Linked DNA regions of Homo sapiens. The protein of the gene in region 1 interacts with the protein of each later gene in a pairwise test. Each region holds a gene or a part of one and is shown in the gene's direction. Other genes may lie near its edges.

The links. Proteins that work in one complex are often made in the same cells at the same time.
Region 2: the proteins of BAHD1 (region 1) and KHDRBS2 interact in binary tests that used the Homo sapiens proteins (3 or more experiments, as listed by UniProt).

What each region holds. Positions count from the first base shown.
Region 1 is NC_000015.10:40,464,924-40,468,747, forward strand, and holds the end of BAHD1 (bromo adjacent homology domain-containing 1 protein), read left to right. Parts: intron 1-411; coding exon 412-512; intron 513-1,017; coding exon 1,018-1,207; 3' UTR 1,208-3,313; downstream 3,314-3,824.
Region 2 is NC_000006.12:62,276,192-62,283,231, reverse strand, and holds part of KHDRBS2 (KH domain-containing, RNA-binding, signal transduction-associated protein 2), read left to right. Parts: intron 1-7,040. UniProt on the Homo sapiens protein: RNA-binding protein that plays a role in the regulation of alternative splicing and influences mRNA splice site selection and exon inclusion. Binds both poly(A) and poly(U) homopolymers. Phosphorylation by PTK6 inhibits its RNA-binding ability.

The sequences.
Region 1 (3,824 bases):
AACACCCCATAGGCTCTCCACCAAGCTGTGTGCTAAAAGAGGTGACTGCCATCTGTGTGTGCCCTGGGCTCACCTTTTATTTCACTTTCCCTTGCAGGGACTTTCCATCTAACTGGAAAGATGAAGAACATTTCCCCTCTCCTACGCTAGGCAGGGCTGGGGTTTGGGAGGTCAGTGACAATCAGGGGCTAGAGCAGATACCTGGCTATTCTGGAGAAGGGGGGGACCTAGAAGGGACTCAGGAGGAATGCCTGGAGGCAGTAGGTGAGGCATACTTAGGCTGAATTTCCAGGGAAGCTTGCTGGAGTCATCTCAGGTCAGCAGGCCCAGCAGAGGGGTTAATGTCTGCCTTGCTCTGGGAATGAGGTGCTTTCCAGCCCTGGTAACAACCTCCACCTGTCTCCCTTTGAGCCCTTGCAGAATGAAGTGTTTGCATCGCGACATCAGGACCAGAACAGTGTGGCCTGCATTGAGGAGAAGTGCTATGTGCTGACTTTTGCCGAGTACTGCAGGTAGGTGGTTCCCTGCACCCTCTGGCTGGCCTCTTCCCTCAGGCTCCCCAGGCATATTTGGGGCTGCTTGGAATTCCCCGAGAGGATCTCATTCTGCTCTCTACCTGATCTTACTCACTGAGCCTAATCTCCCAGAACTTACTTCCCTATTGCTTGCCTCTACCATCTGATATTTTTTGGAAGAAAGAAGAAAAATTGTGTTGCCACACTGAGGTAGAATGGTTGGAGCAGAGTTGGGGGGTAACATTACTGCTCTTGGAAAAAATTTAGGCGAATTGGCAGGCAAATGGAGAGAGGCCCTGGCAAGTGTGGTTCTCCAGTGACAGAGAAGATAGCCTGGTGGTTGGCAGAGCAGACATCATCCCTGGGATGGGTGGAGACAGTACCACCCCTTGGGGAGCTAGGATAGCCTAGCTCTCTGGGTCGGGTAGGGTAGGGTAGGGAAGGAATTGGTCTTCCTGCAAAAGTGGCTGGAGTAAAGACAGTGAATGGTATCTCTCTACAGGTTCTGTGCCATGGCCAAGCGCCGAGGTGAAGGCCTCCCCAGCCGAAAGACAGCACTGGTTCCCCCCTCTGCAGACTATTCCACCCCACCCCACCGCACAGTGCCAGAGGACACGGACCCTGAGCTGGTGTTCCTTTGCCGCCATGTCTATGACTTCCGCCACGGGCGCATCCTTAAGAACCCCCAGTAGCCTCCTCATGCCCATGCTGGGGCTACCCATGGGCAAGTGGGGCTCGGGGTAGGGGGCACTGCTTGAAGCACAGCACTTGGTTAGGGGGCCACAGAGGCCTAAGTTTGCTGGCCTGTGGTTTTCTTGGGGGGGAGGGCAGGGGCCCCTGTGGGTTCTGGGCTCCAGGGGAGGGAGCTGGGGAGGCCAGGGTATAAGAAAAGCATCAGAACTCTCAGCTTGGCCCAAGGTACCTTCTGTGGTTCCCCTGGGTGGAGATTTCCGAAAAGTAGTCTTCTCTGAGGCTGGGCCAAGCCTGAGGGAAATGGGGCCCTAGGAGGGTGGGGGCGGGAAGGAGGGGCAAGGTCTTTCAGGAACCAGACCCAACAGGCCCTTCTGTAGCCTCCCCCTTGCCCTCAAAGGGGGAGTGGGGGCCAGCTTTACCTCACCCACTGTGACCCGCCGCTTCCCCTTCAGCCTGGGACCAGGCTTTCCTAGATCCCAGCACAGCTCTGAGCTTGTTCCTTTGAGGCATAGAGAGCCAGAGTCTGGCTTCCAGAGCATTGACTTCCTCTTCCTAGACTTGAGGCCTTTTCTCTGGCTTTCCTCCTTTGCCCTGCAGTAGCAACTGGTGCTGGGACAAGTTGACCCACCTCTCACAGTCATGGGTGTGGCCCACTTGTGGGAGTCTCCTGTCCACCTCCCAGAGACGGCCACCCAGCGGGTCTGGCTTCCCAGAAAGTTAACTGATGATTGTGGGGTTTGTCATATCTGGGAGGGAAGATGGGTGCTGGGAGAGGGTTGGGGGCAGGGGGCAAGGAAAATTGCTACCTGATTTGTTGAAGATTTTTCCTCTTGCCTTACACATGGAGGTTCCAGGAAACCTCTTGCAGAACTTCACACGTGATTCTTCAAGCCACACCCACCTGAAATCAAACCAAAGGAGTGCTGTGGCTCCCCTTGCCCTGCCACCCTTTCCCTAGTCTTTTGTAGATTGCACTAATTTACATCCTAGCAAGAATCAACACTGTATCAGTCCACGGACCTGCTGAGCTGCAGCCACTTGCTCTAGGAGCTAAGGACTTGCATTTTCAGTTTGTTCCTGTTGCCCAGAGGCCCTGTTCTCACCTCATGCTGCTCCCCAGAGTAGACTAACAGGCTCAGTCCCCTGTTGTCCTTGTGGAGACTAGGCCTTGGCCCTGGCCCTGAGACTCTGTGAGGGGGCTGGAGCAGCCTGGTTATTTCCTATCTGTACCAAAGAGGAGTATGGTGGGAGAGGGAGTGGAGTGCAGTGTGGCTTGGGCCTGGTGCTGGGAACCTGCTAGCTGAGCACTTCCACAAGGGCATACCCCTGGGGGCAGGGGCTGGGGCTGAGAACTGCAGCCCTGGGTCTTCCCTTAGGGAGGAAGGGCAGATGAACCCAGCAGGCTTAGGAGGTGGCACTGGGTGAGGACAGCTGGGCAGGGGCTGCAGAGGGAGGTGGAAATGAACCCTGAGGGCTCCCCCAACTTGCCATGCCCTGTCCCTTAGTAGATGAGTTGCTCCTGATTGGTCATTGGGTTTGGGTGAGGCCTGGAGGCTTCAGAGGTGAATTTATGCTTGGGAAGCCTGATCCCAAACCTGAAGGGAAGGGACTTGGATCTCCTTATATTGAATAAGCTGTTTGGAGGAAGGTGTCTGTCTGGGAGGATGGGGCAGTAAATGAGGTTGGCAGAGTGGCAGTGGGGGCTCTGCAGAGCCAGCCTTGGAGCCTGCTCATTCTGGGCCCTTGCTGCCAAGGAGCCCAGCCTCACCTAGCAGGAAAGGAGATGAAGGCCCTCCTCCCAGGAGGTAGGGTCTTGGCTGCCCCGAACTTAAATGCTTTTGAAATCTCTTAGATGTGGAAATATTTTTTCGAACCTGAAAATGCAGCTGGTAGAATTTCAATGGAAGCATAATCCATGTAAAATATATTTTAGTTGATATTTTGTAAAATGCACTTTTTGTGTGTGTTGATCCTGGTTTCCCAGATCTGTATTTCAGTGTTTACAAGGGAGGAAGGACCTTTCCTCACCTCCCTTTTGACAGAGATTAGAAGTACTTCTTTAAGAAAAAAATAAATTTGAGAAATTGTATTGATTTAGAAAAGGATCGTTTCCTGTGTGTCCTGTCATCTTTTGGTGTGTGGGTGTGGAGAGACCCACTATTCTTATTTCAGAGGTCCCTCTTAACCCCTGTGGCATGGATGCTCACCAAGGCCAATGAGCAAAGAGGGCAGGGAAGCAGAGGGAAAAGAGAGTGAGGGAAGGAGACAGAGGGACTGGGAACTTGGAGTTGACTTCTTGATTTCATGGTGGCCACAGCTGCCTGCTTAGGTCTGTGTGAAATACTTCAGTTGCCAGCCCTCACCTGACCAGTGACCTGGAAATTGGTCCCCAAGTAGGTACATGGCAAAGATACCTTCTTATCACTGGCCTCATGCAGTGGCTCCTGCCTGTAATCCCAGTGCTTTGGGAGGCAGAGGCAGGAGGGTTACTTGAGCCTAGGAGTTTAAGACCAGCCTAGGCAACATAGACCATGTCTCTCGAAAAATTTAAAAATTAGCCCGGCATGTCAGTGCATGCCTATAGTCTCAGTCAGGAGGCTAAGGTAGGAGGATTGC
Region 2 (7,040 bases), on another chromosome or scaffold:
GATTTCAGTTGATTGTTACTCAGAAGAGTTCTTGAATAATGTAGTTTGAAGTTTGTTTATAATATGCTTAAATAATTAAAATAATGTTCATCCTGCGATTATAATGTTGTTTAGTTATCCACTTGTTATGGTAGGTGCTTTTGAATATGATAAAACAGCAAACTCAGGACTATCCTTAAAGTTCTACTCAGTGTCTGAATTTGGTTGCCAGATGAAATTACATAAGTTTATTTATATCTTTTCTGCTTCTGGGAAGTGCATTAAACTGTGAATCTAGATACCTAGATTTGAATTCCACTTTAACCTCAACTGAATCTGGGTAAGCTTTCTTTCCCTGGGCCCAGTTTCCTTGTCTCTCAAATTAAGGAGTTGGACTAAGTGATGTATATGTTTTTTTGCAATTCTAATTAAGTCTCAGGCTACTGATGATACAACGAAGTGATGTTTGTATATTCGGAACAAAAATTCAATGGCTGCACATTTTTGAAACTTTTTTCATTCTTTCCTAGTTTAATGATTAATAATATATTTATGGCACTAAAATGTAATTTGAGGCATATACTTTATTTTGGGTACTGGGGACAGATTTATGTTCTTAAGTCTATTGAACTACTATTAATGTTTGAGGCCAAAAATGTATATACATGAAAATATTATCTGGAAATATTCTGTGTCTGCTGACAGACATAGATCTGTTCAGATTTATATATTCAGTTATGGTGATTCCATACTCCTAGGAGCATTATAAATTTTTGTCCAATTAAGAGAGGTTTGGGGAAGATTTTCTAGCCTGAAATCTTTGCAAGCACTGAAATAATCATAACCATTTTGGTTGACTCATTATATGACGATGTCAAATATTGCCAAATATTCCAGCAGTTCGAATGGTTTTCAAAAAACTGTAGGCGCTATTTTCAAACTTTAGTAAAAAGTTTGACCTGCCATCTAGACTTGGCCTTTATTTCTGCAGATATAAATGAGATCTTAAAAATATTAAGAAAAGAGGGATTAATACTTACCACACATGCAAACTTGTGAGTTAACTACATTTAGATTATCAATAAGAACCATTTTTTAGTTAGATCGTGTTTCTTAAATATTTTTCATAAAGCTTGATAAGTTTTTTAATTAAGGAAAGTTATTAGTGTCATGTCTAAAACAGCTTCTGGTTAAAAAATAGTGTTCCTGTGACTCTTTAAAGTGACTTTTCTTTTGATTAACGTAATCACCTTTTTCTCCCAATAGACTTGGGATAATCTTATGTTTCTTAAATACAAAACAAACATGGGCAAAAAATTAAATTCAAGTTATCTTTGATCTTCAATTAAGACAATTTATGATATAGTGGAAAATTTCTACTTTGACAAGAAAAACACTTGGGAGTGATTATTGACACTTCTACCTACTGGGAAATAAAGGATGTGTCATTTTTTTTCCACCTCTCTGATACTCAGTTTCTTCATCTATATAACAGGAAAAGTGATACCTACCAGGCAGGGTTCTTTTAAGATGAAAAAACAAAAACAAAAACAAACAAACAAAAAACAACTTCTGCTTGTGATGCTTGTGATAACATAAGCCGTATTTTAAAAATTTATTTTATTTTATTTTTGAGACAGAGCCTTGCGCTGTTGCCCAGGTTAGAGTGAAGTGGTGCGATTTTGGCTCACTGCAACCTCTGCCTCCTGGGTTCAAGCAATTCTCCTGCCTCAGCCTCCCAAGTAGCTGGGATTACAGGTGCGTGCCACCACACCCGGCTAATTTTTGTATTTTTAGTAGAGACTGGATTTCACCATGTTGGCCAGGCTGGTCTCAAACTCCGAATTTTGTGATTGACCTGCCTCATCCTCCCAAAGTGCTAGGATTACAGGCATGAACCACTGTGCCCGGCCAATAATTTTTATGTGTATAACAAAAATATAAGCAGAAATTAAACAAACATAACATGATGATGCACCTCAATTTGAGAAAATAAGTAAAATAAACACTGCCTTACTTTAGATTACTGCTGAGTTACATTTGAACTCATAAAGCAAATTATGAAATAAATTACCTTATGAAAAAGGATTAGATTGAGGGTTTTAAAAATATCATGTTTAGTAAATGATCACTTGTCAGTCTTTAACCATGGGCTTGATTAGCCCTGGTCCTATTTATTTCAAGAGTAATTTCAGACCTATTCAGGCTTCATCTTAAACCCACATGTTCTTCACTCTCAGCAGGTGATTTCATCATCTGTTTTATTGGAGGAAATGGATATCTCTCTTCTGCTATTCCTCAACCTCCTACCACCTAAAAACTTCCATAGCCATCGTCATTGTCTTTCATTCCCAGAAGACCAAATGTTTCTTTTCTTCAGGGTTGACTTGCCATCCATATCCTTGACCCAAATGCTCTTCATCTCTGGACTCATTCTGTAGTTAAATCCTTTATTTGTATCTCCTACTCTTTCTCCCGATCGACTCTTTCTTTATAGCAGCTGTCAACATGATTCAATGTGAATAATTTGAAGAAATAGAATACTTCTTTCACTTGCCACAAATATTGGAAAATAATCTCTCTTGACATTTGTCCTTCCTTGTTTCCTTCAAACTTCTGATAATACTAGTATATACTAGCTGCCTCACTTTCTTAATTTACCTTTTTAGAATTATTCGGTTTGGCTTCTGTCTTCATCACTGTCCTGAAACTGATGACCCTAGTGACAGAATAATCTCATATTGCCAAATTGAGTAAATTTTTTCTGACCCCTTATCAAGTCTCTTGGCTGCACTTTCCACTGTTGACCTTCTTCTGATTTCTTTCCATCTTCCTTGTCTTCTGGGCACTATATTCTACTGGTTTTACTTCCTTTTTTGACCGTTTCTTGCCCTCATCATCCTTCATTTCCCTCCTTCCCACACCAACACACACAATGCTGTCACAGTAATTCATTTAAAGTCTCACCATGTCACACTTCTTAATAATTTCCATTGCCTGCAAGGCGTAGTCCATACCCCTTGACGTTCTTATAATATGCTTACCTCTCCAGAAGCATCTCTTCAGCCTTTCTGCTTAATTTCTCTCAGGTATACCAAACTGCTTATAATTCACTCTCTACACTCCCTTGACATTCCCATACCTATTCACAGAAAGCTAGATATTTTCCCCTCATTCCCATAACGAACGCCTCTAGATCACTATTCAAACTGTTATTTTAGAATGATCAGGTTGTGCCTGTCTCTCTCACTAGAGAAACAGCTCCTCTCTGTCTCCTCTTGAGGAGCAGAACCAAGTCTTTTTCATCACTATATTAGCAGCACTTTTCACAGTGCCTGGTATGTGATGGTGCCAGGTAGAGGCCAAACAGGCTTTTCTCCATCAGATTTGAGAACCAGCCCCCTGTTGGCCCCTCTGCTACCTCTTCCGCATGTGAATAACACTTGCTCTTCTCTCTGTCCTCTCCTATCTCTAAGGTGTTGCACATGCTAAGACCTCACTTTAGAATGCCCTTTCTAGCTTCTCTCCATGATTATAATTTATCTTCATCCAATAAAACTGAGTACTGCTATTCCTTCTTCTAGTAAGCCTTTCATAATGGCTTCTCATCTAATTCATTATAAATTAAGTGCACTTCTGGTTTTATTTTCAACCTATCCACCACTACTACATTGCAACATGCAATTCTTTTTGATCTTGGTTGTCTCCCCCTCTAAGCTTGAGGGCCATACTATGACTTCTGTCTTTGAATTTTTAATGCTTGCCTTCAGTCTTATATGTAGAAGGCCTCAATAAATGTTTCTTAACTGAATGATGCTGACCTCATATCTTCCTTTTTCTCCTACCATGTGTTTAGAAGATATCTCCAGAAACAATTTTTCAGTAATTCTGTCACTTACAATGATAATACTAATTCAGTCATATTTTATCTTTGCATAATTCAAAACCTCAGGAGGCCACTTTGAAAGTTTCCATTTGTTTTTAAGTCAATTTTGAAAAATTATTCATATGCAGGAAGTTGGAAAGATAGTACAGGGAAGTCCTTCTTTACTCTGTGAGGTATCTGAGAATCTGCCCATTTGTTTCTTTGTTGTTTGGATTGAGGCTTTGTGTGTGTCTGCTTTTTATTTATTTTTATTTATTTATTTATTTATTTTTTGAGATGGAGTCTGGCTCTGTCACCCAGGCTGGAGTGCAGTGGCACAATCTCAGCTCACTGCAAGCTCCGCCTCCCGGGTTCAGGCCATTCTCCTGTCTCAGCCTCCTGAGTAGCTGGGACTACAGGCACCCGCCACCACGCCTGGCTAATTTTTTGTATTTTTAGTAGAGACGGGGTTTCACCGTGTTAACCAGGATGGTCTCAATCTCCTGACCTCGTGATCCGCCCACCTCGGCCTCCCAAAGTGCTGGGATTACAGACGTGAGCCACCACGCCTGGCCGTGTCTGCCTTTAATACTTCTGAGTTGCTGGCTTTTCTAGCACTCAGTCTGGCACATACGCGGCACAAAGAAAATCTAAGAAAACCATTGAAATGTCATTCCCGAATCTTGTGGTACTGAGACAATTGGCCTCCTTTTTTCCACTTTCTAGAAAAGAAAGTCTTCTTATGTTTATCTGTAATGTCCCATCCGCATTCATTTATGTGTTTTAATTTATATTTTTATGAAATTTTCTTTTGATTGACTATTAGGCCTTGTACATTAATATTAATATTTCATTGACTAGTTATATAGGAATGAGCATGACCACGATAAATTCATCTAGATAATGGACACAGTAGTATTCTCTATATTTATCTGATTTTAAGGTTTTTTTATGGCCTGGTACCTGAGAATGGGAACATAACTGATCATTATTCTCAGTTTCTCTTTATGTATACAGTCTATAGTGAAGCTGTTTGTTCCCACAGCAGCTGTACAAGGGGAGGAAGTGAGGTTTGGAGGTAGTTTTTAGAAACCCCTGGAAATAACTGTGTAGTATCATCAGCTTTCCTTTTGCACTTATTTGAGCACTGAATTTGATCTTTCTTTTTGGTTTGGCTATATTATGAGAAATATATCTTCATTGGAATTATATTCTGGCATCAGTTTGATTTTTTAAAGCTATAAACCGTGTAATATTTAATATATTTCATAGATCAAAATTTGGTACTATTCCCCACAAACTGCTGAATTCCAATAAAATAAACTGAATTTGGAAATTTTTTTAGAGGTGGAATAACCACTAATAGATGATATTCTACATTAATGTTAGCAAATATCCATATTATATGGCTTCCTCATCTTCTCAAGTGCAGAGTTCTGTAGTGATTGCATCTTTTATTTGCCAAATACTTGTGAGGTCATGGCCAAGCATCCTCTTGCTCCATTGTTATTAACTTTTTTGGAGGAAAGAAGTCATTTTTAGCACATCCTCCATTTGACTCATAACAGTACTTCCAAAAAGATTTTGCAGTATAGAGAGATAATAAACAATCATAAAAGCATTAGGCTATTTACCTTATATTTTAGTTATAGTTTGGAGGATTAATTCCATCAGACTAGTACTCTACTGCATTTGACTACACAATCACATATGCCCTTGAATGTGTGTTGTTAAAAACTGCATATGGGCCGGGCACAGTGGCTCACGCTTGTAATCCCAGCACTTTGGGAGGCCGAGGCAGGTGGATCACAAGGTCAGGAGATCGAGGCCATCCTGCCTAACACGGTGAAACCCCATCTCTACTAAAAATACAAAAAAATTAGCCAGGCGTGGTGGCGGGCGCCTGTAGTCCCAGCTACTCGGGAGGCTGAGGCAGGAGAATGGTGTGAACCCGGGAGGTGGAGGTTGCAGTGAGCCGAGATCACGCCACTGCACTCCAGCTTGGGTGACAGAGCAAGACTCCGTCTCAAAAACAAAACAAAACAAAACAAAAACAACAGAAAAACCCAAAAAACTGCATATGATATGTGCTATTAATAAATGAAGTATCAAATGTTTAATTTATGGGGTTTATAATCTATAGGGGATTCAACTACATATATAGACAGATATTTATATATATACATATATGATATAAATAAGTATATGGAAGGTCTGATAGATTTTACAGAAATTTTAGAGACCACTGATATAGGAATTCAGAGAAAGTCATAACTTCTGTTGTTTATGGTAATGAGAGATTTATCATTATTACCATTATCATCATCTCAACATTTATTGAGTTTACTCTTTGCCAGACACTGTACTAGACGATGCATTACCACAAGTAATCTACCCACCAACCTTATTGTGTAGTTATTAGCATTAGTTTTACAAATTAAACAAATTAAGGCTTAGATAAATTAATTTATATCAGGTCTCACAGCAAAGAAATTGTAAAGTTGAAACCCAGGCCTTTTCACCTAGATGCCACGTGTAACCATTACACCACATTGTCTCCTGTGATAGAGACCCAATGTTAGGCTTTGAAAGAATGTCAGCTATTAGTATGCACATTTTATCTAGAAGATCAATGTTGTTGTTGCCATTAACTTCTAAAATATGTTTCTGAATACAAATATTGGATGAATTATTATATGATATCATAAAATATAAGTATAGCTTATAAAAGTCAAATAAATTTATGAATGGGGGAATTTACCTTAGTATAGAATTGAATTAAGGATCATCAAGACAGCCTACTACATTTTCTGAATGACTTACATTGACTGCTTCTTAGAGAGCTTAGTGATGTGGTGGCAGAGCAGAGGGAACATTTCAGACTTCTTTGGACCCAAAAAGTGATTGGATAATTTTGTGTGGTTTGCTGAGGCATTTTTTTCCCCACATTTTTTAGAGAACTGCTTACATTTGCTGAATTCTTCTAGAAGCAAAGAACAACTGTAGGCCCTCTCTTGGGTCTTGAGGCAGTCAGGGTTTTGTTTAACATTTAGAAGTGAGCAAATTTTACGTTTGATCAGAAACAGAAGACAGTATAGCTTGATTTAAATGTTATCTGTATGTTCTGAGGTATTAGAATTTAATAACTTTGAAACAGATTGGCTGGTGTTATTATACTGTTATCAGAAATGCCACG